Linked DNA regions of Homo sapiens. The protein of the gene in region 3 purifies or fractionates together with the protein of the main gene of each other region. This does not show direct contact. Each region holds a gene or a part of one and is shown on either strand. Other genes may lie near its edges. The genes, in order: RBM34, RBM19, ZNF2 and MRPS9.

Region 1 (7,896 bases), on a different chromosome or scaffold from region 3:
GTACCTGGATGTTGATCTTTAATTTTTAAAGGTCTCTAGTGATATTAATATGCATCTGGGTTGAGAAACACTGCTTTGCCGCAAACTTCTAAAAATCTATAATCTAGTTTTTTGGCCCCACTTATTGGACTTTCTACCAACAGAAAACCTTTCTTGGCTGGGCGCAGTGGCTCAACGCCTGTAATCCTAGCACTTTGGGAGGCCGAGGCAGGCGGATCACGAGGTCAAGAGATCGAGACCATCCTGGCCAACATGGGGAAACCGTATCTCTACTAAATATACAAAAAAAAAATTAGCCAAGCGTGGTAGTGGGCGCCTGTAGTCCCAGCTACTCGAGAGGTTGAGGCAGGAGAATGGCATGAACCTGGGGGGCGGAGCTTGCAGTAAGCCGAGATCGTGCCACTGCACTCCAGCCTGGGCAACAGAGCGAGACTCCGCCTCAAAAAAAAGAAAACCTTTCTTTAATACAGAGAGAGGCCGGGCGTGGTGGCTTAATGCCTGTAATCCCAGCACTTTGGGAGGTTGAGGTGGGTGGATCACCTGAGGTCAGGAGTTCGAAACCAGCCTGACCAACATGGTGAAACCCTGTCTCTACTAAAAATGCAAAATTAGCCGGTCATGGTGGCGCATGCCTGTAATCCCAGCTACTAGGGAGGCTGAGGCAGGAGAATCGCTTGAACCTGGGAGGCGGAGGTTGCAGTGAGCCAAGATTGCACTCCAGCCTGGGAAACAAGATTGAAACTCCGTCTCAAAAAAAAACAAAAACAAAAACAAAAACGAGAAAGGAAATCAACTTTTTTAAGGCCTAGAAAGCTTAAATACATATTTTTTAAAGCATCTTTGTGGTGGCCCTTTATTTTCACAAAAATTAGTTTAAGGGATGATATTTTAAATCTGTGGAACGGTGCTTCCCAAAATGAATTCCTAGAATACTGGTCCCTGGAAATGCTCTGGGAATTTATAACCAAATATATTTTGGAAAATCTATGTATAGCACATTCTTAGAGAATCACAGTGTTTGCATATTAAAAACTTTGAGAAGGCCTGTGAAGAGATACCTGCCTAATAACTTCCTTTACCCTACTGTTTTCAATCCCACCTAATCATGAAACCCTGTTTTTTGAGGAGCTCTTAATATCACATACTGAGTATGTTATAGAAACAGTGCTGAATAGGGGAATTATTCCAAATTTTGGTGGAGTCGAGATTTATGACTTTGTGCCTCTCTGTCTCGCCTGCCTTCTTGTTCTACGTCCTACCTTCTTAAGAGGGTTTGAGGATTTTATTGAATTAGTAGAATTGACCTATGTCTACTTCTGGTCACCTAAACTAGACTTTACTAAGTTAGTTTACAATTGACATATTAAGATGGTATGTTTTTCTTTTCTTTTTTTTCTTTTTTTGAGACGGAGTCTCACTCTGTTGCCCCAGGCTGGAGTGCAGTGGTGCAATCTTGGCTCACTGCAACTTCTGCCTCCCAGGTTCAAGTGATCCTCCTACTTCAGCCTCCCGAGTAGCTGGGACTACAGGCACGTGCCACTGCACCCAGCTAATTTTTTGTATTTTTAGTAGAGAGGGGTGTTTCACCGTGTTAGTCAGGATGGTCTCGATCTCCTGACCTCGTAATCTGCCCGCCTTGACCTCACAAAGTGTTGGGATTACAGGCATGAGCCACCGCGCCCACCCAAGATGATACGTTTCTTAACGGTGTTCTCCAAAACGTTTTTTTTCCTACTGAAAAAACTTTAGAGTGGGGTCTTGTTAATTTCTTTTTTTTGTTTGTTTTGTTTTGTTTTAGACAGAATCTCGCTCTGTCGCCCAGGCTGGAGTATAATGGCGCCATCTTGGCTCACTGCAACCTCTGCCTCCCGGGTTCAAGTGGTTCTCCTGCATCAGCCTCCCGACTAGCTGGGATTACAGGCGCCCGCCACCATGCCTAGCTAATTTTTGTATTTTTAGTAGAGATGGGGTTTCACCATGTTGGCCAGGCTGATCTCAAACTTCTGACCTCAGATGATCCACCCACCTCGGCCTCCCAAAGCGCTGGGATTACAGGCGTAAGCCACCGCACCCGGCCTCCTTTTGTTTTTTTGAGACGGAGTTTCGCTCTTGTTGCCCAGGCTGGAGTGCAAATGGCGCAGTCGCTGATCTGAAACTCCTGGGCTTGCATTCCTTCCGTCTTGGTCTCCCAAAGTGCTGGGATTATAGGCGTGAGCCACCTTGTCCCACCATGTCCTCATATTTTAAAAAACTCTCAAAGCAGTAAGTGATCTCTAAATGGTTAAAAACAGCACTGAACAGCAATGAAGATAATTTTAAAACTATCTGCAACCACAGCTGCTTTCGCAGTCTGTTTTCTTCTATAAGTATCTGCTACCTAGCTGGGCACAGTGGGTCATACCTGTAATCCCAGCACGTTGGGAGGTCAAGGCGAGCGGATCACCTGAGGTCAGGAGTTCGAGACCAGCCCGACCAACATGGAGAAACCCTGTCTCTATTAAAAATATAAAATTAGCCAGGCATGGTGGTGCATGCCTGTAATCCCAACTACTCGGGAGGCTGAGGCAGGAGAATCGCTTGAACCTGGGAGGCGGAGGTTGCAATGAGCCAAGATCGTGCCACTGCACTCCAGCCTGGGCAACAAGAGTGAAACTCCGTCTCAAAAAATACACAGAATAGAATTCTATAATTCTAGAAATATAGAATATAATTTCTTCACTGGACTGGATAGAACAGATTTTTGAGTTGTATCGCATGCATGTATGGATAAGCTTTCTTCATCTTTGTGAAATACCAGAAGATCAAGATTATGGGAAACCAAAATAAGGGGCCCAGTAATCAAAACCCAGGGCCGAGCAGTTGAATATTGTGGATTTTTTTCATAAATTTCTCTGAAGGGGGAAGTAAAAGTCACATATATTCCCAGTCAACTTGGTTGAGTAGCTTTCAAAAAGCTTAGGCTGTCCCCAAAAGACTCAAAGTCAAATCCTGGCTGGATGCAGTGGCTCACGCCTGTAATTCCAACCCTTTGGGAGGCCAAGGCAGGAGGACTGCTCAAGCTCAGGAGTTCAAGACCGGCCTGGGAAACACAGTGAAACCCCAATCTCTATTTAAAAAAAAAAAAAAAAAAAAAGGCCAGGCGCGGTGGCTCACACCTGTACTCCCAGCACTTTGGGAGGCTGAGGTGGGCGGATCACAAGGTCAGGGGTTCGAGACCAGCCTGGCTAACATGGTGAAACCCGGTCTCTACTAAAAAAATACAAAAATTAGCTGGGCATGGTGGCATGCACCTGTAATCCCAGCTACTTGGGAGGCTGAGGCAGGAGACTCACTTGAACCCGGGAGGCGGAGGTTGCAGTGAGCTGAGATCGCGCCACTGCAGTCCAGCCTGGGCGACAGAGCGAGACTCTGTCTCCAAAAAAAAAAAAAAAATTAGCTGGGCATGGTGCTGCTGCTTGCAGTTCCAGCTACTCCGTGGTGGGAGGATGGCTTGAGCCCAGGAAGTCAAGGCTGCAGTGCGCCGTGATCTCACCACTACACTCCAGTCTGGGTGACAGAGCAACACCTTGTCTGAAAGAAAATAAGAACAAAGTCAAATCCTATTTTGCCACTCAAACTATTGGATGATTTAACTAGTAATCTTTTATTACCCTGAGAGTCAATTTAACAAATATTCACTATGTACAGCTAATAGAGACACAGCATACATGATGAATAAAACATAATCCTTACTGTCTTGCCTTTACATCTAAAGAGACTGTAACTAACACTAAAGCAGACCAAAAATGATTATAGTAAGTACCATGGGGGCTTGGGAAAATATCCCTATTGTAAATAGCAAAGAATTTTTTTTTTTTTTTTTTTGAGCCAGGGTCTGCCGCTTAGGCTGGAGTGTAGTGATGCGATCACAGCTTACTGCAGCCTCGACCTTCCAGGGCTCAAGGGATCCTCTTGCCCGAGCCTCTCAAAGTGCTGGGACTACAGGCGCCGAGCGCGAAGGTGCCCGTCTAATTTCTTTTCTGTAGAGAATAAGTCTCGCTAGATCGACCAGGCTGGTTCAAACTCCTAGTCCTCACGCAATCCTCCCACTTCGGCCTCCAAATGTGTTAGGATTACAGGCGAGCCACCGCACCTGGCTGCAAAGAAATACTAAGTTAGACAGTATCTGAGGTAGGCCTTGAAGGATGGACATTATTTTGCAGAAGGGGAAAGAGGAGGGCAATTACAACAGAGGGGACAGGAATAACAACTGTAGAGGCAGTGGAGAAAGCAGGCTAGAATGTCAGGGGCTGGAGGGAGATGAGTCTGGGAAGACGGGCTGAGAACACCTTGAAGCGTTTTGAATGCCAAGTATCTACTTTTCCAGGTAGAATAGCAGGTCCGCATTACAATCTTTCGAATTGTATGTTGACGTGACTCGTTAGAGTTGTGGTTTTTATTTTGGAATAATGTCATGTTTCAGACAAGTTGCAAGAAGAGTACAAAGAATTCCTTTGTACTCTTCACAGCGATTAGCAAATTGTAAACACCCCACTGCGTTCACCCCTAACCGCATTTCTTGCCAAACCTCCCTCCCTCCTTTTCAACAAGTCAGTATTCTACGTGTTTCTCTCTCGGCTTGGGTGGACACCCCGCTCCTAGCCTGGCTGATTCTTCACACTGCAGGCTTCAACCACTCCCAGAAGACGTCCTTCACTCCCAAAATGAGGCTTTTCTGAAACGGCGAGGACCACCAACCGACGGCGACAAACCTGCTCCCTCACCCAGCGCCTCCCTTCGCCGCCGCCCGGCGGCCGACTGCCGGAGGGGAGGGGGCGTGGCCAGAGAGCGGAAGTGCCCGGAACCCGGAAGTGCGAGCTGGCGCGCAGCTGCAGTCTGGGAGTCTTTGGAGTAAGAATGGCCTTGGAAGGGATGAGCAAACGGAAGAGAAAGAGAAGTGTCCAGGAGGGGTGAGTGGCGCGCGGCACGAGTACCTGGGGAGGGATGTTGTACGTTCCCTCGTGCTGGCGAAGCGGTGGTGCGTGGCGTGGCTGAGTTTCTGTCGTCCATTTCTAGAGAGAATCCTGACGACGGCGTTCGCGGGAGTCCGCCGGAAGACTACAGGCTTGGACAGGTCGCCAGTAGCTTATTTCGCGGCGAACACCATTCCAGAGGTGGCACCGGTCGGCTGGCGTCCCTCTTCAGTTCTCTGGAGCCCCAGATTCAACCCGTGTACGTGCCTGTGCCTAAAGTAAGTCACTGGGCTTTCTTCCCGAATAGCTCGTTAGAACCACTTACATACAAAGCAATCTTCTTACCTACCGCGTGAAGCGTGATTTCTAAAGGGGGCAGACAGGATTCATTTTAAGTAACCTTTCATGACTCTTACATACCAGTGAGAGAGAAGAGATTCTCATTTAGAAAGACTGAATTATGGCTTAGGGTCAGAATTCTAGAAGTATGGGGTCTCAAATATAACTTCAAACTTTTAAAAAGCAAACCATCAAAAAAACGAAACGGAATGAGGAGGAAGAAAGTACATCCCAGATTGAAAGACCACTTTCGCAAGAACCTGCCAAAAAAGTGAAAGCGAAGAAGAAACACACTAACGCAGAAAAAAAGTTGGCAGACAGGTTGGTAAAATTCTCTTATTTGATGTTAAAGAAATTAGATGGTAAATTAACATTCCTATACTTGGAATATTCGTCAGTTTTATTTCATATTTCTACTTTCTTTCAAAACTTTTATTATGGAAAATCCAGTACATATAGAAAAGTTGAAAAGGCTAAGAAACCCCGTGTACTCAGCATCAGCAATTACTAATATTTGGCTAACCTTTTTGTATTTTTACCCCACTCATATACCCCCTCATTATTTGTTTTTGTTTGTTTTGAGATGGAGTCTTGATGCCACGCCCAGGCTGCAGTAGAGTGCAGTGATCTCAGCTCACTGCAACCTCCGCTTCCCAGGTTCAAGCGATTCTCCTGCCTCGGCCCTGAGTAGGTGGGACTACAGGCCTGCGTCACCATGCCCAGCTAATTTTTGTATTTTTAGTGGAGACAGGGTTTCACCATGTTGGCCAGGCAGGTCTGGAACTCCTGACCTCAAGCGATCTGCCCACCTCGGCCTCCGAAAGTGTTGAGATTACAGGTGTGAGCCACCTCGCCCAGCTACCACCTCATTATTTGGAAGCAAAATGAAAATTTATGTTTCATCTATAAATATTTCAGCATGTATATAAAAGAATTTGGTTTGCGTTTCTTTTTTTTTTTTTGAGACGGAGTTTTGCTCTTTTTGTCCAGACTGGAGTGCAGTGGCCTGATCTCAGCTCACTGCAACCTCCACCTCCCGGGTTTAAGTGATTTTTCCTGCCTCAGGCCTCCCGTGGAGCTGAGATTACAGGTGCCACCATGCCCGGTTAATTTTTTGTGTTTTTAGTAGAGACAGAGTTTCATCATGTTGGCCAGGTTGGTCTTGAACTCCTGACCTCAGGTGATCCACCCACCTCAGCCTCCTAAAGTGCAGGGATTATAGGCATGAGCCACTGCACCTGGCCTGGTTTGCTTTTTAAAAAAAAAATTTTTTTTTTTTTTTTTGAGCTGGAGTCTCACTCTGTCGCCAAGGCTGGAGTGCAGTGGCGCAATCTTGACTCACTGCAACCTCCGCCTCCTGGGTTCAAGTGATTCTTCTGCCTCAGCCTACTGAGCAGCTGGGACTATGGGCGCGCCATCACACCCAGCTGATTTTTGTATTCTTAGTAGAGACGGGGTGTCACCATATTGACCAGTCTGGTCTCGAACTCTTGACCTCATGATCCACTTGCCTCCGCCTCCCAAGGTGCTGGGATTACATACGTGAGCCATCACACCTGGCCGAGTTTGGTGTTCTTAAATTTATTCATTTCCCTCATTAACTTTTTTTTTTTTTTTTTGAGACAAGGTCTGGCTCTGTCACCCAGGTTGGAGTGCAGTGGTGCGATTGCGGCTCACTGCAATCTTTGCTTCCCAGACTCAATCCAGCCGCCCACCTCAGCCTCCTGTGTTGCTTAGACTATAGGCATGCCCCACCATGCCCAGCTAATTTTTGTATGTTTTGTAGAGACGGGATTTTGCCATGTTGCCCAGGCTGGTCGCAAACTGCTGGACTCAAGTGATCCAGTCAGCATTTTTTTTTTTTTTTTAGTAAAAAAATAGAAACAGGGTCTTGCTATGTTGCCCAGGCTAGTCCTGAACTCCTGGGCTCAAACCATCCTCCTACCTCCGTCTCCCCAAGTGCTAGGATTACAGGCATGACCCACCATGCCCGGCCAGCATAACGTTGTTTAACAGTGTATTTGAATCAAGATGCAAATAGTGATCCCATCACGTGTACCTAGCTAACAGTCTTCATTCCTCTCTTCTTTGCCACTCTCCTCAAGCCCCTTATTTCCTTTTCCCTTTTCTCATTTCAACTGAAGACCTTTGTACCAGTTCTGGAGCTGTTAATCACTGACAGTTGGGAACTGCTACTTTTTGTCCTATTTAAACTTAATGCATCTGTACACAGCCATATTTCTTCCCCTCTTTCTTAGAGCAGAGTGTCTTCCCTCTTGTCCAAGATTAACTCAACCACCTGGGTGCTGTGTGTACCACATATGTTCTGCCTTTTTAGGGACTGTGCCGTCAGATCCATCCACGTTCGCCTCTTTCCCTTATCCCTCGTTTTTTTTTGTTTTTTTTTTTTGTTTTGAGATGGCGTTTCACTGTTGTCGCCCAGGCTGGAGAGCAACAGTGCAATTTTTGCTCACTGCAACCTCCGCCTCTGGGTTCAAGCGATTCTCCTGCCTCAGCCTCCTGAGTAGCTGGGATTACAGGCGCCCACCACCACACCCAGCTAATTTTTGTATTTTTTTGGTAGAGATGGGGTTTCACCATGTTG
Region 2 (7,024 bases), on a different chromosome or scaffold from region 3:
AGGTGCAGTGGCTCAGGCCTGTAATCCCAGCAATTTGGGAGGCTGAGGTGGGTTGATCACTTGAGGCCAGGAGCTCAAGATCAGCCTGGACAATATGGTGAAACTCCATCTCTACTAAAAATACAAAAATTAGCTGGGTGTGGTGGTGTGTGCCTGTAATCCCAGCTACTCGGGAGGCTGAGGCATGAGAATCACTTGAACCCGGGAGGCAGAGGCTGCAGTGAGCTGAGATCACACCACTGCACTCCAGCCTGGGCGACAGCAAGACTGTCTCAAAAAAAAAAAAAAAAAAAAAAAATACAGGGCTAGGCAGGGAGAGAAGTGATGCTTCACAGAGAAAGGAGGGAACAGGGACCTGGACAACATGTCAAACTGCTCTGTCTCTGATGCAGAGAGGACTCCCAGGTCAGAGACGAGTTGGCCGACCTCTGGGGAAGCGCCCACGTTTATGATCTCGACTTCAGACCCCACAGACCTGGGGCTAAGTCCTGAACCCACCATTTCCCAGCCATGACCCTGGCTGAGGCACCTTCCTTCTCCAGGCCTGTTTCCTCATCTGTAAAATGGAACAAGACCAATACTGCCCTCCAGATAGTGATGAGATGCAACGGCACGGCAGGCATGGTGCCTAGTGTGTAGCGCAGGCTCAGTTGATCCTCCCTATGATTGCTGATGACTGGTCTGCACCCCTCTGCCTGTGTTGTTACTAAATACAAAGGATAAAGGCTCAAAGCCATCACTCAGCTCACTTCTGCCCCATTGGTGGGATATGGGTGTGTTGACCGGGGCTGCTCCAGTTTGCCCGGGATAGTTGTTCACTCTATCTGTAGTCATTAGACCTGCAGTAACTACATCCACAGCCTGGCACCCCACTGGACTAGCATCTCACTTTTAACTTAGTGTTGACAATAATTTAGTTGTCACCCTACTTATAGGCAATTTCTGGAAGGCAGGTGACCTCTCCAGGTTAGCAACAGAAAATAAATGCAGAGGCTGGGTGCAGTGGCTCATGCCTATAATCCCAGCACTTTGGGAGGCTGAGATGAGTGGATCACTTGAGGTCAGGAGTTTGAGACCAGCCTGGCTAACATGACAAAACCCCATTTCGACTAAAAATACAAAAAATTAGCTGGGTGTGACTATAATCCCAGCTACTCAGGAGGCTGAGGCAGAAGAATCACTTGAACCCAGGAGGCGGAGGTTGCAGTGAGCTGAGATTGCACCACCGCACTCCAGCCTGGGTGACAGAGTGAGACTCTGTCTCAAAAAATAAAATAAAATAAAATAAAAATAAAAACAGAAAAGAAACGCAGAAAGAACACACGGCGAGCAAGCGGCAGGGCCAAGATCGGGAAGGCTTTGGACTGCAGAGCTGCGTCTTTCCCCAACATTCCGCTCTCCTAACAGAGGAGCTGTGGGGACCACGGGCAAGCAGGAGAGCGCACCTCCTCCCTCATCACCTGCGGGATACACACGCACCTCGGCTCTGGCCTCCGGTGGTCTCTTTTTCCCAGCTGGCATCCCTTGCTCTTGGCCTGCACCCTTGCTGTCTCTTTCCTGCAGGACTGGGGTGGCGGAGGAATCCTCTTCCTCGGCCTCACTCCCTTCATCACAGTGCACGGCTTCATCTTCACTTTCCTCTTCCTCCGAGGAAGAGGACGACCCAGCCTTCACCATCTTGGATTTCAGGTAATCCATGTCCGACAGCTCCTTCTGCACAGCTGCCTTTGGTTCGAGGCTTGCCTCTTCTGGAAAAACAGGGAAGCTGGGATCAGCGACAGCTATGAGCAAACCAGAGGTCAGAGGTAGCAAATGGTAGATGGTCCTCCTAGTGAGAGGCCTGAGGCACCATGCCCACCGTGTCCATGGCCCCTGTGCCCAGCATCCCCCATAAGTCCTCTGATTAGCAATACCAAAACGGGGCAGGGCTACTGCAGCTTTGATATTCTCTGTGCCACACATTGAGCTCCTGGCTCCCTGCCACCAGCCATGTCTTCCTAGTCCTCTACACGGCAGCCTCTGTGACACTTTACAGAGTAGGTACAGGACGGTCAGTCTCTGCTTAATACCCTCCAGGGGTTTCTGAATGCTCAGGGTGAAATCCAGGCTCCTCATCAGGGCTGGCTGCGTGGGCTTCTTCCACTGTCTCCTCCTGCTCAAGCCATCCCAACCCACATTGAGCCCCTCAAGCCCATGCACTTTCCTTTCCTCTGTGTCTCTGCGATGCTGTTCCCTTGACTGGAACCCCTTTCCTCTCCCCTCCCCTACCGTGTCCCACTAAGTCCCCTGAGTTCCTCGGATGTGAACTTAGTGCAGAAACGTTACCAGGCATAACTGCACTAAATGTACATCTTCTCACCTTTAGACCCAAATAGATGCCCAGTTCTCCACCAAGCACGTACCCTCCTGTGTTGCAACTGTTTTCTTGCCCACCAGGCCTCCCCCACACCACAAACCCCTTCTGAGGACAAAGGCTCACTCCCTCACCTCCTCAGGGAGGCCTTCCCTCATAATTCTCCTGTCGCCTTTCCTGCTTTCTCTCTGTAGCATTCATCATCCTATGATATACCCAACAGTGGACTTATTTGCTTATTGTTTCTCTCCACAACCATAATCACAGCTCCATAGGGGAATAAACCCTTCTGTCTTTTGCTTATCAACATGGTCCCAATGCCTGAAGTATGCCTGGCAGATAATAGGTGCTCAAGAAATATTTGTTGACTGACTGACTGAATACACAACTAGGATCAGTGAAGACAGATGCACCTGCAGAGGGATCATCACCCCCAATGGAGAGCTCAAGGGCTCACCTGACTCCTAGAGTCTGCACAGAGGGGCCCCCAGTGCCGGTTAGCCCAATGGCAAGCACAGGTCCGTGCGCATGGAGCACACAGTCCCCATGCCCTCACCTTCCAGGTCCTCCCCGGCTCCCTCCTCCTCACTCTCCTGCCCAGAATCGGAGTCGAAGTTCAGGTAGTCACTGGCCGGCTTGCTCTTCCCTTTCGAGGGCTCAGCATCCAGGCCATCATTCGCCCAAGTGGCTGCCTGCGCCCGCCTCTGATGAACTGACAGAAACTCCTGGAACTCTGTATCCTCCTTCAGCTGGTGGCACCAGAACCCGGGCGGCAGGGACACGGGAAAAAGAGAGAGGAAGAGGCAGAGAAGGCTCAGGTGGGGCTTGATCTTTCTAACTCTTAAGAGGGTGAGAAGATCCCTCAAGCTAATTTCCCCCATTCTCTGGAGGACCCCGAGGTTCAGCTGGGTCAGTTCTGAGGAAGGCAGAGTTGACTCCTCACTAGACAAAACTAAGAGGACAAGAAGACAAGGCCAGGGGAGACCAGAGGCACAGCTCTGCTTGCCAGGGCCAGCCTCCATCCTCTCCAGCCTCTTCCCTCTCCCAGTGTCCACCCTCTCCAGCCTCTTCCCTTTCCTAGCCTCCACCCTCTCCAGCCTCTACGGTCTCCTAGCCTCCACCCTCTCCCAGCCTCTACCCTCTCCAGTCTCCACCCTCTTCCACCTGCTGCCCACCCTCTCTCCTCCTTGGGCAACAGGACAGACTCACCTTCTCCAGTTGACCTGCCACCTTTTTCTTCTTCTCATCCTGAAAACAGAAGGCACAGAGAGTGAGGGTCACACAGATGAAGAGAGCTGGGAAACAGAACTGCACTGACCTGGGAGGGCCCATCTTTGGGAACCAAAAGTGAGTGACTACCCTGCTGGCAGTGGGGACAGAGGCTAGAGTGACCCTTTACATACTTTCTTAATTTCTGGAGTAGTAGAGTCTTTTGGAGGCTGCTTGGGCTGGCTTGGTTTCTGGGCATGTTTGCTCCAGGCTCTGGGTTTGGCCGGGTCCCCGAATGACTTGCAGAACTCCACCTGTGTGGGAAAGAGAGTGATTTTCACACCTGCCATGGCACCCAGGCGTTGGGTGCTGCCCTTCGGCACCTGGGAGCTCGGGCATTTCAGACAACTGTCACTGCCTAGCTGAGTTTGCTGAAGTAGATTACACGTCACCCCTTAGCCTGGGCTTTCTTTCCCTTCAAGTCTAGAATACAATACTCTAACAGTCTATCATTATGAGTCTGTAATACTGTAATGGTAATAGCTGCCACTTACTGAGGAACTCCACATGCCAGGTACTGTCTGAAGTGCTCTGCAAGTACTGATACACCGAGCCTCTCATGTCAGTGACAGCTATGACTTTCTACAATTCAGATCAAGAAATTGGAGCATCAAGAAGTCAATTTCCCTGGCTTACCCAGGTAATAAGTGACAGAGTGAAGACTGGAACTCAGGGGGTCTCTGGGCTCTGGAACCTGAGTTCTTAACCATCCACTCTACCGGGCGGCTGTGAGGATGGCATGAGATGACCTGGGCCAAGCACTCAACCAGGCTCTGGGCAGGGTAATGTGGGGCAGTGGCTACCACAGTTACCCCACACTGCCCTGGGTTAATTATCATAAAGTAAGCTCATCTGGCTCCAGAGAACAATTCTAGGGTGATAGGGGCACTGGGGTGACCACTGGAGGGACGGAAGAGTACTGGAGACCCAGCCTGAGCTGACGCACTATTCAGGCCCTAAAACCTCCAATACACTCCTCTGAGAGGACTTTGAGAGCGCTGGTTACTGGGGCATCCACCACCGCAAGCCACTCCCAGCCACAGTTAAGGCTGACGCTGGTCAACCAACCACTGCCCCTGGGGGAAGGAGCTGCCATCTGGTTGCAATCCTTTTTAAGACACAGGGTCTCACTCCGTTGCCCAGGCTGGACTGCAGTGGCATGATCATAGCTCACTGCAGCCTCAAACTCTTGGGCTCAAGTGATCCTCTTGTCTCAGCCTTCTGAATACCTAGGACTCCAGGCACATGTCACCATGCCCGGCTAATTTTTTTTTTTATTTTTGTAAAGACGCAGTCTTGCTATGTTGCACAGGCTGGTCTTGAACTCCTGGCTTCAAGTGATCCTCCCACCTCAGCCTCCCAAAGTGCTTGTATTATAGGCAGGAGCCACCACACCTGGCCAGTTACAATCCCTTTTGTGCACACTTCCAAAATAGGCTTGTTATCTCTATAATAATGACATGCTCACGGTACAAAATTCAAATAATATACAAAAGTACAATGGAAGTTAAAAAAGATGTACTCCAATTCCTATCACTCATGGAGAGGAATGATTAGTATTTTGGTACAAATCCTATCCTATGGCCTTCTATGCATTTATCATATATGTATGGATAGAGGAATACGATTGTGTCTATATAGGATCACGAGACATATATATATTTATCCATCATCTGTTTTTTCCTTCTCAACAAAGCATTAGAGATGTTTTTACGAAGTCACTAAATACACGAGTGACCTGAGTGGAGCCCACTCCTCCAGGAAGCTTTCCTGACTCCTCCCTGGTCCGGCTATAGATCTTTGTTCTCCCACAGTCCCTGGGGCTCACCCTATCATAGCACTGATGTCACTGAGCCAAAGCAGCCTGCTGACCTGTCAGCCCCCTGCCTGCCCAGAGACAGCAGGCTCCATGAGGACAGGGGCTGAGGCATCACCTTTTTCTCTAAACTCCCAGCATCATTGAGTGCTTGCTAAATGCATGAGTGAATGGATGAGGTAGAGCTGTGGTTCTCAAGGTGTGGGCCTCAGACCAGCAGCATGGTCGTCACCTGAGGGCTTGTTGGATGTGTGAATTCTTGGGTCCTGACTCCATGCACTGAATCAGATGCTCTGGGGACGGGCCCAGGAAGCTGTTATAATAAGCTCTCAGGTGATTTGTATGCACATGAAAGTGTGTGAATCGGTGAGGAAGAAAACCAAAGACATCACAAAGTGAAGAGGGACGGTCTTTGAACTCAAGTGCTGAGTGAAAGATCAAACAACGTCACACTTGACAGGAAGGTAAGGGTGAGACTCCTGCCCACTCACTGTGATCCGGGATGTGTCGATGAAGCTCTTGTTGAAATGCTTCTGTGCCTTCTGGGCCTCTTCCTCGGACTTGAAGCCAATAAAACCAAACTTGCGGAACTTGCCATCTTTGGTGAACTTCAGGCTGCAGTCTGTCAGCGTGCCGAAGGCGGCAAACAGCTGCCTGAAACGCTCCTCCTTCATCTAGGACAGAGGGAAAGGAATGAGAGACGAACTGGAAAGTCCCCAGAGCAAGGGGACAAAATGGGCTGGAAACCTGAGGCCACGAGATTCTCCAAGGGTGGCCTTAGATGAAGAGGGGCAGAGTGTACTTTTCTAGTTACAACAGGTTCCAGCTCTGACTCTAGCACGAGTTGTGTGGCCTTGAGAAAGTCCCTTAACCACTCACTGATGTGGAAATCATGACTCATAATGGCTGCAAATGACATCTTCCTACCCTATGGGGCTCCTATGAGGATAAGACCAATTACAGAAGCAGTATTACGTCTGCTACATAGTAGATACCTAATAAATACTTGTAGGAATAAATGAAAGAATGAACAGGCATGGTAAGCTATATATATCTTTGTTAATAAAGCCCCCCCAAAAGATGCCCACATCCTAATCCCTGGAAACTGTGGATATGTTACCTTACAAGGCAAAAGGGACTTGTCAGGTGTGACTGATATGGAGATGGGGAGATGATCTGGATTATGCAGCCAGGTCCAATGTCACCTCAAGGGTCCTTATGAGAGGGAGGCGGGAAGATCAGAGAAGATGGAAACAGAAAGATTGGAAGATGCTATGCTATTGGCTCCAAATATGGAGTATATAGCTATGAACCAAGGAAGGCAGGTGCTTCTAGAAGCTGAAAAAAGGCAAAGGGACAGATATTCCCACAGAGCTTCCAGAAGGACTGCAGCCCTGCCAAAGCCTTGATTTTAGGATTTCTGACCTGCAAAACTGTAAGATAAGGATTGTCTGGATTGTTTAAGCCACTAAGTTTGTGCTAATTTGCTATAGCTGCACTAAAAAACTAACACACTATTATTATAATTTGGTCAAGAAGCCCCACACTATGGAAAACAGGCTCCTGGCTTCTCACCATCTTCACTG
Region 3 (7,024 bases):
GAGAATAGATTTTGAAGGTGGACCTGTCTTCAAGACCTGGCATCACCTTTTACCAGCTGGTTCACCTTGGGCAAGTGATTTAATCTCTCTAAACCTCAGGGTGCTCATCTGGAGATGCAGATGGTAACAGTGCCTACTTCATATGGTTGGTGACAGGATCAATTAATCTACTTCCTGTAAAACCCTTAGCTGAGTCTTTACCTCATCGCAGGTGCTCAGTAAGTGCTAGCTACTAGCAGTGGAAGTAAGAGGTCTAAAAGCTGGGACACAAGAGAACAAGATTAGTGCCCCAAAATGCTCCAAGAGAGGGGGACTAACAGCCATCAAAACAAATGTTCTGAAAAAAAAAAATAGTACTGCTGTGATATCATTCTGCCTTTCCCTCCTGTTGCAGCCTCCAGTTTCTTAAAGTGCAGTGATACCTGGGGCCTAGGTTCTCAGACAAGAGGTGTGTCTCCTCCTAACATCTATCCTATTGTCTGACAAACCTCTTCAAAATTTTGTATCTTTAGAGTCATTTCCATGGCCTCCCCTACAGTTCTATAACACAGCAGGAAGGGAGTGCTTATTAAACACTCTGGCGCAGAAGCAGGACAGGACAACGGCAGCCAGAGTGGGTAGAATGAGCAAATGGCAGCTTTAAGACAGGCGAGATCTATCTCAAATTTGTATGGAAGTTCTTGTCCTACCCAAGCTTTTGCCCAACTCAGTCTATTCCCTGTTTGGCGTAACGCCGTTGATGTTGAATAACAGAAGATTTTGAACTGAAAACTTTCCCACACACAGTGCATTCAAAGGGCTTCTCTCCCGTGTGGACACGCTGATGCCGCGTGAGCCGGCACCGCTGGCTAAAGGCTTTCCCGCATTCGCTGCATTCATATGGCTTGTCTCCAGTGTGGATCTTCTGATGCTGTGTAAGGGATGAGCGGTCAAAGAAAGCTTTGCCACACTCGTTACACTGATAGCGAGGGTCCCCAGCATGAGCTTTCTGATGTCTATTCAGAGACGAGACACCATAGAAAGCTTTCCCGCACTCGTTACACTCATAAGGCTTCCTGCCAGTGTGGATTAGCTGATGGCGAGTAAGAATACTTTTCTGGCTAAAGGCTTTCCCACACTGATGACATTCATAAGGACTTTCTCCAGTGTGAATTCTCTGGTGTCGAGTAAGGGATGAACGGTCAAAAAAGGCTTTTCCACACTCGTTGCACTGAAAGGGTTTCTCTCCAGTGTGAATTCGCTGATGGACAGTTAGGGACGAACGGTCAAAGAAGGCTTTTGAGCACACACTGCACTCGTAGGGGCTCTCCCCAGTGTGTGACATCAGATGTCTGCTGAGGCTGCTCCTGTGGCTGAAGGCTTTCCCACACTCGCGGCAGTCGTAGGGCTTCTCCCCAGTGTGAGTCCTCTGATGGCGGGTGAGGGATGAGTGGTCAAAAAAGGTCTTCCCACAGTCACTGCATTCCTGGTGTCTCTCTTTAGTGAGAATTTCCCTGGACAGGGCTGACCGTCGCCGCAAGCCTTTGTCCCGGGAGAGGGATTTCTTACGAGTCTCCCCTGAAGGGCTTTGCTTTTCTGTTCCCATCCTGCCATTGGGTGTATGAACTTCAAATTTAGGACACAGAGGACTTTGCCTTCCAAGGCATTCCCTCAATGATCCTTCTGATTTTTTGTCTGAAGCATCGTGAATCTCAGGCTTAGTTTCCCAGTCTGGAACAAACAGAAAACAGATGCAGTTTTTTTCCTGGGCTAGGAAATATTACAGAAAGAAGAGATGCTCCGATGAGTCTGAAAGTAATGTATGGTCACTGCATTGCTTGCTCCCATAGATAGTCTTACACGGCAGGGAGGGACTAAGACCTGGGAGTGAAGAAGGTGGCAGGGAACAGAATGGATGGTGGACACCTCAGAAAACAGGAGAATGTCCAGTGGGAGCATGGCCAGGACAATCAGGAGAGCATGCCGAATAGACAGGATGGCACTCAATAGCAATAGCAAAGTGTGGCTGGGCATGGTGGCTCACACCTGTAATCCTAGCACTTTGGGAGGCCAAGGTGGGCGGATCACCTGAGGTCAGGAGTTCGAGACCAGCATGGCCATCATGGCGAAACCCCATCTCTACTAAAATACAAAAATTATCCAGGCGTGGTAGCGGGTGCCTGTAATCCCAGCTACTTGGGAGGCTGAGGCAGGCAGAATCGCTTGAACCTGGGAGGTGGAGGTTACAGTGAGCTGAGATAGCGCCATTGCACTCCAGCCTGGGCAACAGAGCGAGACTCTGTCTCAAAAAAAAAAAAAAAAGAAATAGCAAAGTGTGAGTGCACAACGTTACAGACGTGAGAAAGTAACACTTGGTGAATATAGATGAATAACACGTTAAGGTGTAGAGGGAAAAAAATAAAAGCTATTGGGTGATATACAATAAATAATAAAGCAGAAGACTTGAATTTGAGAGAAAGATGATACCTGTTATTTCCCCCATCACCCAAATAACAAAAAGCCAAACAAAATTCCATTCTGTCTTGTTCACACTCAGTTACCTAGAGAGACACTCTCTGGCCATTCTCTCTCCTCAGACCCATGAAGATCTACCATCCACGGCTTGTCCCCTCTCTTCAATTGGAAAATCACATCAGGTTGAGGAACTGGAAGGCCTGCTCAAAGAGAAAGAAACAAAGCAGGTGGCTGTGTGTGATGAAAATAATATCACTCTCCCAAAGCTCAATCCCAGCCTCTAAGATTTTTTTGTTGTTGTTGAGACAGCATCTCACTCTGTCGCCCAGGCTGGAATGCTGTGGCCTGATCTCGGCTCACTGCAACCTCCATCTCCCAGGTTCAAGTGATTCTCCTGCCTCAGCCTCCCAAGTAGCTGGAATTATAGGCGGGTGCCACCACACCTGGCTAATTTTTGTATTTTTAGTAGAGATGGGGCTTTGCCATCATGGCCACGCTGGTTTCGAACTCCTGACCTCAGGTGATCCACCTGCCGCGGCCTCCCAAAGAGCTGGGATTACAGGCATGAGCCACTGAGCCTGGCCACAGCATCTAAGTCTTTTAGAGAGAAAATGCAAAAGGCAGAACGCACAAGCCAAGAATGCAGAGTCCAAAGCAGAGGAACCTCTGGACGGAGGCCAGGACTGAGGCTATAAAAGGAGCAAGTGGCACAAGGTCAGAAGGTTGAGAGAACCCGTGTAGATTCACGTGTTTATTCTTCCCTGTGAAGTGAATGGGAAGTTCCCAGTGTTAGCACTGGTAGGATGAAGGTCGTTGGCTTAGGAGAGATGAGAATGAAATTAAGTCACCTTGAGTAAAAAGTGTATCCAAACTGCCCATTTTTGTTTATTTGTTTGCCTTGAACATTGTGCTTTCATTGAAACAAGTCTGTCCGGTGCATTCTAGGAAAATTAGAAGTGTATACAAGCAAAAAGAAAAAATCACCTTGCCTACAGTGTATTTTCTTTCTTTCTATTCAGATATCCAAAGACACCCATAAATACATTCTGTTAAAAACTGGATAATGAGGCTGGGCACAGTGGCTCCTGCCAGTAATCCCAGCACTTTGGGAGGCCGAGATGGGTGGATCACCTGAGGTCAGGAGTTCAAGACCAGCCTGGCCAACATGGTGAAACCCTGTCTCTACTAAAAATACAAAAATTAGCAGGGCATGGTGGCCCATGGCTGTAATCCCAGCTACTTGGGAGACTGAGGCACGAGAATTGCTTGAACCCTGGAGACAGAGGTTGCAGTGAGCCGAGATTGCATCACTGCACTCCAACCTAGGCAACAGAGTGAGACTCTGTCTCAAAAAAAAAAAAAAAACAAAAAAAACCAAACCTGGATAATGAAATGACGCTGATTTGTAAAGCTGATTTTTTTTCACACAATAAATTTAAAATACCATTTTATTTATATCAGTACTGATCTACCTCACCATTGTAATGGCTACGGGATATGACATTGTATGGATAACATAATTTATTTAATGAATTCCCTTATGATAGAAATTTAGACCATTTTTAACGTTTTGCTATTAACAAACAATAGTGTGATGAACATCTGCATACACCATGGACTACTAGTCCTATTATTTCCTTAGGATAAATTCCCTGAAGCAAATCTATCCATTTTTGGTTATATTAAAAAATAGATCCTGGAAATAGGCTTGGGCTCTAAACTTCCCTTTTGCTGAGGCCCCAACTTGGGAAAGAGGCACTTTCTTATTGGGCCCAAGGATTGTCTACCGGGTTTTCTGTGGATTCTCTGTTGACAAAACGGCCACACCCAGCATCTCCCTGTGGCTCTCTGTCCCTGACCTCAGGGGTTCTATTTTCCTCAATATGCCATCTACTAAAGCCTGTAACAAATGCTCCTTTGATGCCTCCTGAATATTCCATTCTGTTTGGGAGACAATTGGCCTGATTAAGTTAATCTGGGGGGTGTTAGCACTTACTTTTTGACCTGCCTCGTAGGAAATCTGCAATGTGACTCCTTTTACTGCCATCTGCTGCTTATTTTAAGCCGGTTTCTCAATCTGGGCACTCTCTCAGCCTCTCGTGAAGCTCCTGAAAGGTTCTCATAACCTCCAGGAGCCCAACTTTACTTTTCACTAACACCAGAATCAGCAGTGACTCTTAACTTTCTCTTTGTCACACAAGTCTCTATAATTACAAAGTGTCTTCTGTGAGCATCTAAGACTGTACCTAAGACAAATATTCAAAATCAAACATATATCTGGTGACCTCAGAGGCACAACCCTGAATTCCGACAAGATGGCCCCCTACCCCAGCGCACACTCCTCTGGGTGAGCTGAGTTACCTAACTGGCGAACTGGGAGAACTGGGCATATGAAACTCAGCGTCTTCTGCCTGCCCCTCTGGAGCGCCAGCTCCCTGCCTCTAACACACATTCCGCTCTGTCCCTCAGCCCTCGCTGGCCCTCCCTGAATTTTGCCGGGCAGGCTGCTGAGCGAGAGAGCCTATGGTCATCCAGCACTGCCCATGGCTGGGGAGGCATGTCTGCCCAATGCTGGGGTTCAGTATTGAGCCCGCCGTTGCTGTACTCTGATGCCACATCTTTCGACTCTTACTTTATCTCTCAGGTGGCTCAGAACTCAGCGGGGAGGAGAACGGTATTAATTCCTCAGCCCTCTCAGCCCCACATTAGCATAGTACAGACTGTACCTCCTCATGGAGGCTCCCCTTACCCAATGACACAATGCTGTTATAGTTCTCCAGCATCACCTCCTTGTAGAGGTCCCTCTGTATGGGGACCAGACGACTCCACTCTTCATCTGTGAAAACCACGGCAACGTCTTCGAATGTCACTGATTCCTGAAAATACAATCACATTCTCCCTTACTCTTAATCCTTCTCTTTACTTGGACCAGACCAAAAATGTCAAAGATGACAGCCCTGGAGGACGCATGGTGGGAGGAAAGAAAAACAGTTCTGACTGAGTAGAACTTTAAAGCATTTGGGAAAAGTGGCCTCATCACCCAAGACATGAAGTTCTTGGTCAGAATCTCACACCACTATACTTACAGCTGAGCTTCTGAATATCAGACTCTTTTTTCAGACTTCTAAAAACAGCACAAAAAAATTCCTGTGTACCCTTCACCTGGCTTCCTCAACTGTCAACATTTTCCACATTTACTTTATTTTTCTGTCTCTCTCTAGATACACATTCTCCTATCTTTTTGTTAGGCCTCTTGACTAACTTGTCAACATCATGTGTCTTTAATCCTAAATATTTCAGTGTGTATTTTGTAAAAACAAGGATGTACTGTTGTTATAATCACAGTATAACTATAAAAAATGGAGAAAATAGCATTGATCTTATACTATTATCTAATCTACAATCTTACTCAAATTTCACCAATTGTCTTTTTTTTTTTACAAATCCTTAGAATAATGGTGTTGATTAGATCATCTGTAGGATCCCTCTCATTTCATTCTAATGCTCTGTGATTCTGTAAGATTGCATCTCTTTACCTTCAGTTCTAAAACCTCAGATGAGTCTCCAGTGTGTCTGCAAAAGTTCTAGGCCAGGATGCAGAATTTAAGACTCTGCCCTCGGGCAGGAATGGAGCAAGCCACACAGTCTCTAGCACAGGAGACTCTCTTCAGGGCTCTTAGCACCCCACAGAGGTGCTCTACAGTGTGTATCACACGCCCCAGCCTAGCCCCACACTCCCTGGAACACTGGAGCCTCCTCTCAGTCCACACATGAATGTACCAAAGGGACTGTCAGGACCAGAACCAGCCCACTATTCCCCAAACCTTCCAATCAGACCCTACCATTGGCTTCTAGGCAAAATCACTCACAGTGAAGGCTCCAGGAGTTGTTAAGCCTGGTGACAAGCTAATGGGCACATGCTCACAGCAAGAAAAGGTCACTAAAGGATACCTCAAGTCAAATAGGAAAGAAATACTCCCTGTGGAGTCCTTCATCTGCCTGGCTGGGTCTGCTCAAAGAGGCTCCAGGATAGAGAAAGAAAAGTGGTTACATTCTGGAGATGAATGGAGTATTTCGGGAACACAAAAGTCCACCTCACCTGGCATCTGGTGGTCGGAGACACAGCAGCCATTCTCTCCTGTGTGCTCTCCTTGTGGACAAGGGCAGAGTCCTAATGAGGCAGAAGTGGGGGGTGAGAAAGAAGGTAGGAGAAAGACCAGTCCTGTCGCATAGTCTTTTGACCCATGAAGCACATACCAGGGGGATATGTCATCCTCAATACCTTACAAAAGGGGGTCTAAGTAAAGCAAAGCCAGGAACAATCCCAGACCACCCCAGAATTAGAGCCAACAACCATGGAACTGCGAATTAGACCACAATGTGGTGGTGGTTTTTACCACGATGCTAGAGGCAGAGTTCTGTTCCTGAGAGTCAAGAACTGTGTAAGATTCACACAGTACGTAAAAATTCACATTCAATATTGCCCTGAATGATTACTGGGCAAAAGCCATTAGCAATTTTATAAATGACTACATGGACAAGACATATCAAAGACAATCCAGTCTCTTCA
Region 4 (7,024 bases), 9.9 Mb from region 3:
GTCTGGAAAGTTTGGCAGGAATCAGTATGATCTGTTTTGCTATGCTAAGGTAGCTGAATTTTTTACCTCTCACAAATGAAAATAGTGTTAGCATTATTATGAGCAGTTGACAGTTTCCTTCCATGCTGTACTACAAAGGTTACCCATGAATTCATAAATCCTCTATCAATATAGCTAATATAGGAATGCTAATTTGGTTTTCTATAATATTTGTGATTTTTATAATAAGGAAAAACAAAAGACCAATTGCTATTTTGAAAAATATTTCTACAAAACACTAATAGGGTGTTTTCTTAATTATTCTCTACTACTGAACACTTTCCTAGTGCTTAAATATTCAGTTTTTGCCAAGCCAAGATGCCTTTGTTGATTTAGACCATCTGCCAGAGAAGTGATCAATGACATTAAATGGCTTGGCCCTTTATATTTTGGTTTCCACTGTAAACACATTCCTGTCTCTGTCTAAAGTATCTGTTTTTTTTTTTTTAATCTCTCATGCTTCTGGAGGTTATAATATCCTGTATTTATCACAGCATTCTATTGATCTGCTTTAGTAGGATCTTAATACATTTTTTTTGACAAATGGCTAAAAAACGCTTTGAAAAACAAATTGTATAATTGACTTGAATTTGTATCAGATGCTCTGTACAGCTCTGTAAATTAGTTATGCCCTACCCCGATAATTTTTGAATATATTTATTTTTAATCCCAGTTTATTAGCAACAGAAAAGCCCTTTGGTAGGATAAACTGTTCCCTTTGAGATCTAATCCTGTCCTTGTAAGGATAGAATTGAGTGTGTTCCTCATTGCTGTAATTAGGAAAAATACCTCTACATTAAAATTTACAGTCTTTATTTGGCAATTTATATGTTTCTTATATAATAAGAGCTTGATAATAAATGCTACTATCATTCTCACCTCTCTTTTCCTTGTAAAACAAGATAACTAAACTTTCTTGTACAATGCTTCATTGTAATTAGGATGATGAACGTATCAGTTATTTATTGCTACATAACAAATTATCCTAAAACCTAGCAGCTTAAACAACAGACATTTGTTATCTACAGTTTCTGTGGGTCAGGGTTCTCCAGGCACACTTTGTTGGGTCCTCTTGCTCAGGGTCTCTGGTAAGGCAAGAGTCCAGGTATTGGCCGGGGCTGCAGTCATCTCAAGGCTCCACTGTGGGTGGGGAGAGTCTGCTTCTAGGCTCACTCAGTGTTGTAGTTAGCAGGATTTAGATTCTTGCAGGCTGTCGGGCTGAAGGCCCCAGGTCCTTGCTGGCTGTTGGCCAGAGCCCTCCCTCAGCTCCTGCCACATGGGCCTCTAGGGCAACTCAGCACATCTGGCTTCCCTCAGGCTGATGAAGAAAAGGTAAGCAAGAGAGAAGAACAGCAGGTGGCAGATTCACTGGGAGCCATCTTGGAAGCTGCCTACAACAGTGGAAGACCCACATATACTTATTTTCTTGTTATCTAAGTGTCTCTCTCATGTATTTAGGTCTTTCTTCTATGGTTCTTATGTGTGGGCATATATGGGTACCTATGTGTGTGCACATGTGGGTACATCTGAACACCTGCTGTATCATTCTTTTTGTCAGATAGGATTATTAGCTTAAACAAAACTGCATCTTTACTATGTTTTGTTTTCTTATCTCATTATAGCAACATTCTCACTTTAACATCACTCATTTCTTCTTTACAATTATTTCTGTTAACATTTAATACAGAGCCTGGTCTATAATAATTGCTCAGATTTGTTAAATGAACTTGTAAAGTAGTTTATTTTTAGAATTTTATTCTGCAAAACCAAGCATATAAAAATAGAATAATATAATGAACTCCACAGATCCATCAACCAGCTTCAACAATTATTAATAATTTCCCAGTCTTGTTTTTATTTCTCCCCTCCCACCCCCCAGAGTCATTTAATGTAAACCCCAGACATTCTGTTATTTTACTTATAGGTACTTGAATATGCATCTCTAACATAAAGGTTTTTTTAAAAAAATAGATTCCTTGCCACCGCCATATCTAACAGAATGAACAGTAATTTCTTATCATCTATTACCTATTTCATGTTCAAATTTCCCTGAATGTCCCAACAGTAGCTTTTTGTATATAGTTGGTTTATTTTAATTGGGAGTTAAACAGGGTTTATGCGTTTTATTTGATTGGTAAGTATGTTAAGTGTCTTAATTTATAACAGATTATAGAATTAATGTAAATGGTAAATTTTGTTTAAGTAAGTGGATTTCTTATTTGTTTAACATAGTATCCGTTTCCCCTTCATAGTAGTATCCCAGTTTCCCCAGGAGGAATTAGTTCTTTTTCGCTGGTTATAGTTGAGAAGACCTAGCTATAGTCCCGAATAATCTGGGGCACCTGACTCAAAGTAATCCTCAGATGTTCCTCCTCCTGAGATCCTGAGCATAGAGGCAGGACAGTTGGAATACCGTTTTGTCTTAATGGACACATTCTGATTGAACCTGCATGGATAACTTTTAGCTGATAGAGATCCCTTGGACCCTGCCTGCTTTCCTTTCTTTTTTCTTTCCTTTTTTTTAGAATTTTTATTTATTTTTATGTTTTATTTTTTGAGACAAGAGTCTTGCTCTGTCACCCGGGCTGGAGTGTGCAGTGGTGCAATCTCGGCTCACTGCAACCTCCGCCTCCTGGGTTCAAGCAGTTCTCCTGCCTCAGCCTCCCAAGTAGCTGGGATTACAGGTGCCCACCACCACACCCAGCTGATTTTTATATTTTTAGTAGTGACAAGGTTTCACTTTGTTGGCCAGGCTGGTCTCAAACTCCTGAGCTTGTGATCGGCCTGCCTTGGCTTCCGGAAGTGCTGGGATTACAGGCGTGAGTCACCACGCCCGGCTGCAATTTTTTTTTTTTTTTCTAAGATGGAGTCTTGCTCTGTTGCCCAGGCTGGAGTGCAGCGGTGTGATTTCGGCTCACTGCAACCTCCGCCTTCTGGGTTCAAGTGAGTCTCCTGCCTCAGCCTCCCAAGTAGCTGGGATTATAGGTGCCTGACACCATGCCCAGCTAATTTTTGTATTTTTAGTAGAGATGGGGTTTCACCATGTTGGCCAGGCTAGTGTCGAACTCCTGACAGTTGATCCGCCCACTTCGGCCTCCCAAAGTGCTGGGATTACAGGCATGAGCCACTGCGCCTGGCTGCAAATTGTTCTTAACAGTGGCAAAGCAAATTCCCTTCAAGAATTCTTGGTGTTTTTAGCTAAAGATCTGTTTTTTTCACACTCTTAGCCTCACCTTATTTAATGGATTGTACCAATGAATAATGGACTCCTTTGAATGTAAATATTTTTGTGTGAATTCATTGCTGGAATAATTCTGGACTTTTAATAAACATATTCAATATCCTGCTACTGATGCTGTGATAACTTTGTAAATTTAATATTATAAATTTCCAGAATGCCATACTCTTAAGCAATGTGTAGAAATGTCTTTGAAAAAGATCCTAAGGACTTTTTATGAAAAATAGCAAATTAGGGCCATTTTTTTAAAGCCCTTTCTAAATGGACAACAATGAAAATGTTTATAAATATGTTTAAACCTCAATTATGTTAAAAGTAGGAAAGCCACCACCTTATGTCACAAACTCTGGAGACTATAGGCAGACACAATTTTAAATCAAGTGAAAAACCAAGTCTTCAATAATCGAGACTCTTTTGCTTGAGAAGATGCTAAAATGTTGTAGGAGCAAAAGGAACAGTGTGGAAGAGACAGCTGAAGAAAATACAAAGGGATATTTACCTAACAAAATGGAAGAATTATTTTACCACAGCTACTTAACACTGTCAAGGACATTTAAAAATCAGTTGAGTGAGGAGGAGCTCTATGAGATGGGATAAGACAAGAAGATATGATTAAAGGAAACTGTTGAGGTAAGAATTTTGAGGATAGACCAATGATATAAAAAGCTAAAAATTCATAGTGGCTGCAGTAAGCAGAATTGACACTGTAGAAAGAGGGAAAAAAACATGGAGTAAAGATTTCAAAATCATACAGAATGCAGAAAAGGGATAAGAAATAAGACTAAGAGAAGCTGATCTAAACTATGGAGAACAGAAGAACAGATAATTGCTGTGGCTGAAAAAGAGCTGAATAAGTCAGTAAGAATTCATTGGATATTTATTTTTGAAGTTGATAGTACATTTAAACATTTTATTCAGAGACACATGTATTGTCACTGGTAAAATGAGAGCAAGCTGTATATGGTCCAAATTGCCAGCTCAAAAGCCAAAAAAAAAAGAAAACCCAATTCTTTTTTTTTTTTCATATAGCAAAAGAAAGAAAATAGGAAGGAAGCATTAAAAAATGTAAAGATTAAATAAGATGAATGACAAGACCGAATAGCTGTTAAACCCCATGTAACTTGGGTATTCTCATCTACTAAAATCTCAGATTGGGTTAAAAAAACAAAACCTAAAAAAAATAGTCTAAAACTTAAATGAAAAAGATGGGCAGTGATATTCCAGGGAAATGTAAATAGGAGGTTGAAAGGGTTGCAATATTATGACCCAACAGAATTGAAGAAAAAAAATATTACATAGGAGTAGAAAACTTTGTAATGCTGAACGGTACAATCTACCCTAAGATGTAACTCTCTGGAACTAAATAGCACATTGAATATACCGATGAAACATACAAAAGAAACCAACCATAGGGAAATAAAATTGACAAAAGATTACAGACATTGTATGGATATAGATTCCTGTCTGGAATTATTCTCCTGGCTCACTAGTAATGAGAATTACCTCTAAGTATGAATGAATACTTAAAATTTTTTTCTCTAATTTCTTTGGGAGACAGAGTCTCCCTCTGTTGCCCAGGCTGGAGTGCAGTGGTGCGATCTTGGCTAACTGCAACCTCCGGCTCCCCGGTTCAAGCGATTCTCCTGCCTCAGCCTCCTGAATGACTGGTATTACAGGCGCACACCACCATGCCCTGCTAATTTTTGTAATTTTTAGTAGAGATGGGGTCTCACAATGTTGGCCAGGCTGGTCTCAAACTCCTGACCTCAAGTGATCCACCTGCCTTGGCCTCCCAAAGTGCTAGAATTACAGGCGTGAGCCACCGCACCCAGACATCTCTAATTTCTTTCTGACAGTTTTTCTGTCTATACTTTACAACCACTGCATCACAGTTCTTTGAATATGAGGTGTTCAGTCTGTTAAACCTACCGCCTTTTGCTCTCAGCAGACAGACCATCTTCTATTTCATAGAGAAAATAGAGGGTGTAAGACATAAGTAACCTTGCCTTTCTGCCTACCTTCCCTCACCTACAAACAATTTGTTTCATTACTAGTAGAAGACATGTTTTTTGTCCTAACGCTAATGCTTGCCATTTTTTCTCCTTCTCTTTTAAGTGTCAACATCATGTCTCAGGTGATTAACAGACCTGTATCTGAAGCTCAGGTCTGTCCATGCTCACACCCACAAAGCCACCTGCCTCCTGGACATCTGTCTTCCTGGGATGTCCATCAACATCTCACACACATTCTCAAATTTGAACGCATCACTTTCCTCCCTGATCTTGCTCCTCCTCTGGAATCCCTTCAGTGAAAGGAGCCATACGCTCCAGGAGGCACATTTCCTGAGGGCTGTGGTTGGTGATTGGCAGGGAGTGTGGTTGTAGTGACCTAAAAGAAAGTCTTTGTGGGTTCACCTGTATTAGGGTTGTTTTAGCTGTGAACAAAAACATTTTGTCATGTTATCTATAAAAACCAGCAGTGTAATCATCCTTTTGGCAATGGAACATTTGGGAGAATTATCTACTATATGATTGCTACTTTTTGGCCCCCAAATCACACCTTTGCTATGATTCTTGGGGTAGAAAGATAATTTCTCTTCACTTTGAATATGTGAAGCAACATTCTCCATTGCCCAAAGAAGACGTAGACTCATAAAGAACAAATTTTAAAATCCCCTGGAAAACAGTAAAAACGTTAAGATGGGAACCACTATGGTAGGGAGTTGGTGCTGGTGGCGCTGGGCTGTGGCAAGGGGAGCAGGGGTGTACAGACAGGCTGTGTCTATAAAAGAGCGGACCATGCATTAGCCAGTTGTGGTCATGCTTTTACTCATTGACAGCAATACTGTATCTTCACAAAGCATTGTGAGAAACGATAATGATTGGTTAGTAATATATTTTAGAAGGATGTGATCTCCTAAGTAAAAATAAACTCAAGTTTCAGAGAATTTTAAATTGCCCTTTTCTTACTCATTAAAAAGTAAGAAGAAACTCTATTTTTACTATCTTAATTTGGAAGAGTTTAAAAACATATATTTTTTTCATTAATTGGGTATTGTTACATTTCTCCTGTATTTTTTCTTATATTTTCTTGTGTAACTTTAGTGACAAATTACTGTAGAGGCATCTGAATTTAGGACTCTTGGAAGGGAAGGGGATGGAGGTAGGAGGGATGGTGCCAGTGAATGATGTCTGTCTGAGAGAGATTTATGTTTATGAAAAAGGAAGTGAGTGGATTCCTAAGATTGTGGTTTTAAGGCCTGAATATTGCTTTAAGAGTGTTTAGAATTGTTGGGGCCAGGATGAAGGTTGAGAACTACAGGTTTGAGATCTTAAGAAAAGCCAGGACCAGAAAGATCTGTTCTAGTTATTTCCAGCTACGGGATGCAGCTGAATGTCATTTGAAAACATTTTTCTCGTTTTTTAGCATCTTTGACTGAAGGCGAAATCTTCATGCCTTGGAGGGAAATTCCTAGTGCCACAGCATAAAAGGACCAGCAGCAGCAAGTGTGATATAATTACTGATGCCTTTAAAAGATATGCGAGCCCTTTGGGTATATACCCAGTAATGGGATGGCTGGGTCAAATAGTATTTCTAGTTCTAGATCACTGAGGAATCGCCACACTGACTTCCACAATGGTTGAACTAGTTTACGGTCCCACCAACAGTGTAAAAGTGTTCCTATTTCTCCACATCCTCTCCATAAAGACACATGCACACGTATGTTTATTGCGGCACTATTCACAA

The links.
Region 1: the proteins of ZNF2 (region 3) and RBM34 purify together in Homo sapiens (affinity purification with mass spectrometry; 2 studies listed by BioGRID and IntAct, with this or other methods). This does not show direct contact.
Region 2: the proteins of ZNF2 (region 3) and RBM19 purify together in Homo sapiens (affinity purification with mass spectrometry; 2 studies listed by BioGRID and IntAct, with this or other methods). This does not show direct contact.
Region 4: the proteins of ZNF2 (region 3) and MRPS9 purify together in Homo sapiens (co-immunoprecipitation; 3 studies listed by BioGRID and IntAct, with this or other methods). This does not show direct contact.

Annotation. Positions count from the first base shown.
Region 1 is NC_000001.11:235,158,227-235,166,122, reverse strand, and holds the start of RBM34 (RNA-binding protein 34), read left to right. Parts: upstream 1-4,872; 5' UTR 4,873-4,896; coding exon 4,897-4,949; intron 4,950-5,055; coding exon 5,056-5,230; exon of another isoform or gene 5,231-5,475; coding exon 5,476-5,612; intron 5,613-5,621; exon of another isoform or gene 5,622-7,896.
Region 2 is NC_000012.12:113,956,303-113,963,326, forward strand, and holds part of RBM19 (probable RNA-binding protein 19), read right to left. Parts: intron 6,113-7,024; coding exon 5,930-6,112; intron 3,877-5,929; coding exon 3,757-3,876; intron 3,602-3,756; coding exon 3,563-3,601; intron 3,103-3,562; coding exon 2,910-3,102; intron 1,749-2,909; coding exon 1,480-1,748; intron 1-1,479. UniProt on the Homo sapiens protein: Plays a role in embryo pre-implantation development.
Region 3 is NC_000002.12:95,175,789-95,182,812, reverse strand, and holds part of ZNF2 (zinc finger protein 2), read right to left. Parts: intron 6,626-7,024; 5' UTR 6,587-6,625; coding exon 6,554-6,586; intron 5,331-6,553; coding exon 5,204-5,330; intron 2,655-5,203; coding exon 2,541-2,654; intron 1,750-2,540; coding exon of another isoform or gene 1,711-1,749; coding exon 707-1,710; 3' UTR 1-706. UniProt on the Homo sapiens protein: May be involved in transcriptional regulation.
Region 4 is NC_000002.12:105,041,055-105,048,078, forward strand, and holds part of MRPS9 (small ribosomal subunit protein uS9m), read left to right. Parts: intron 1-7,024.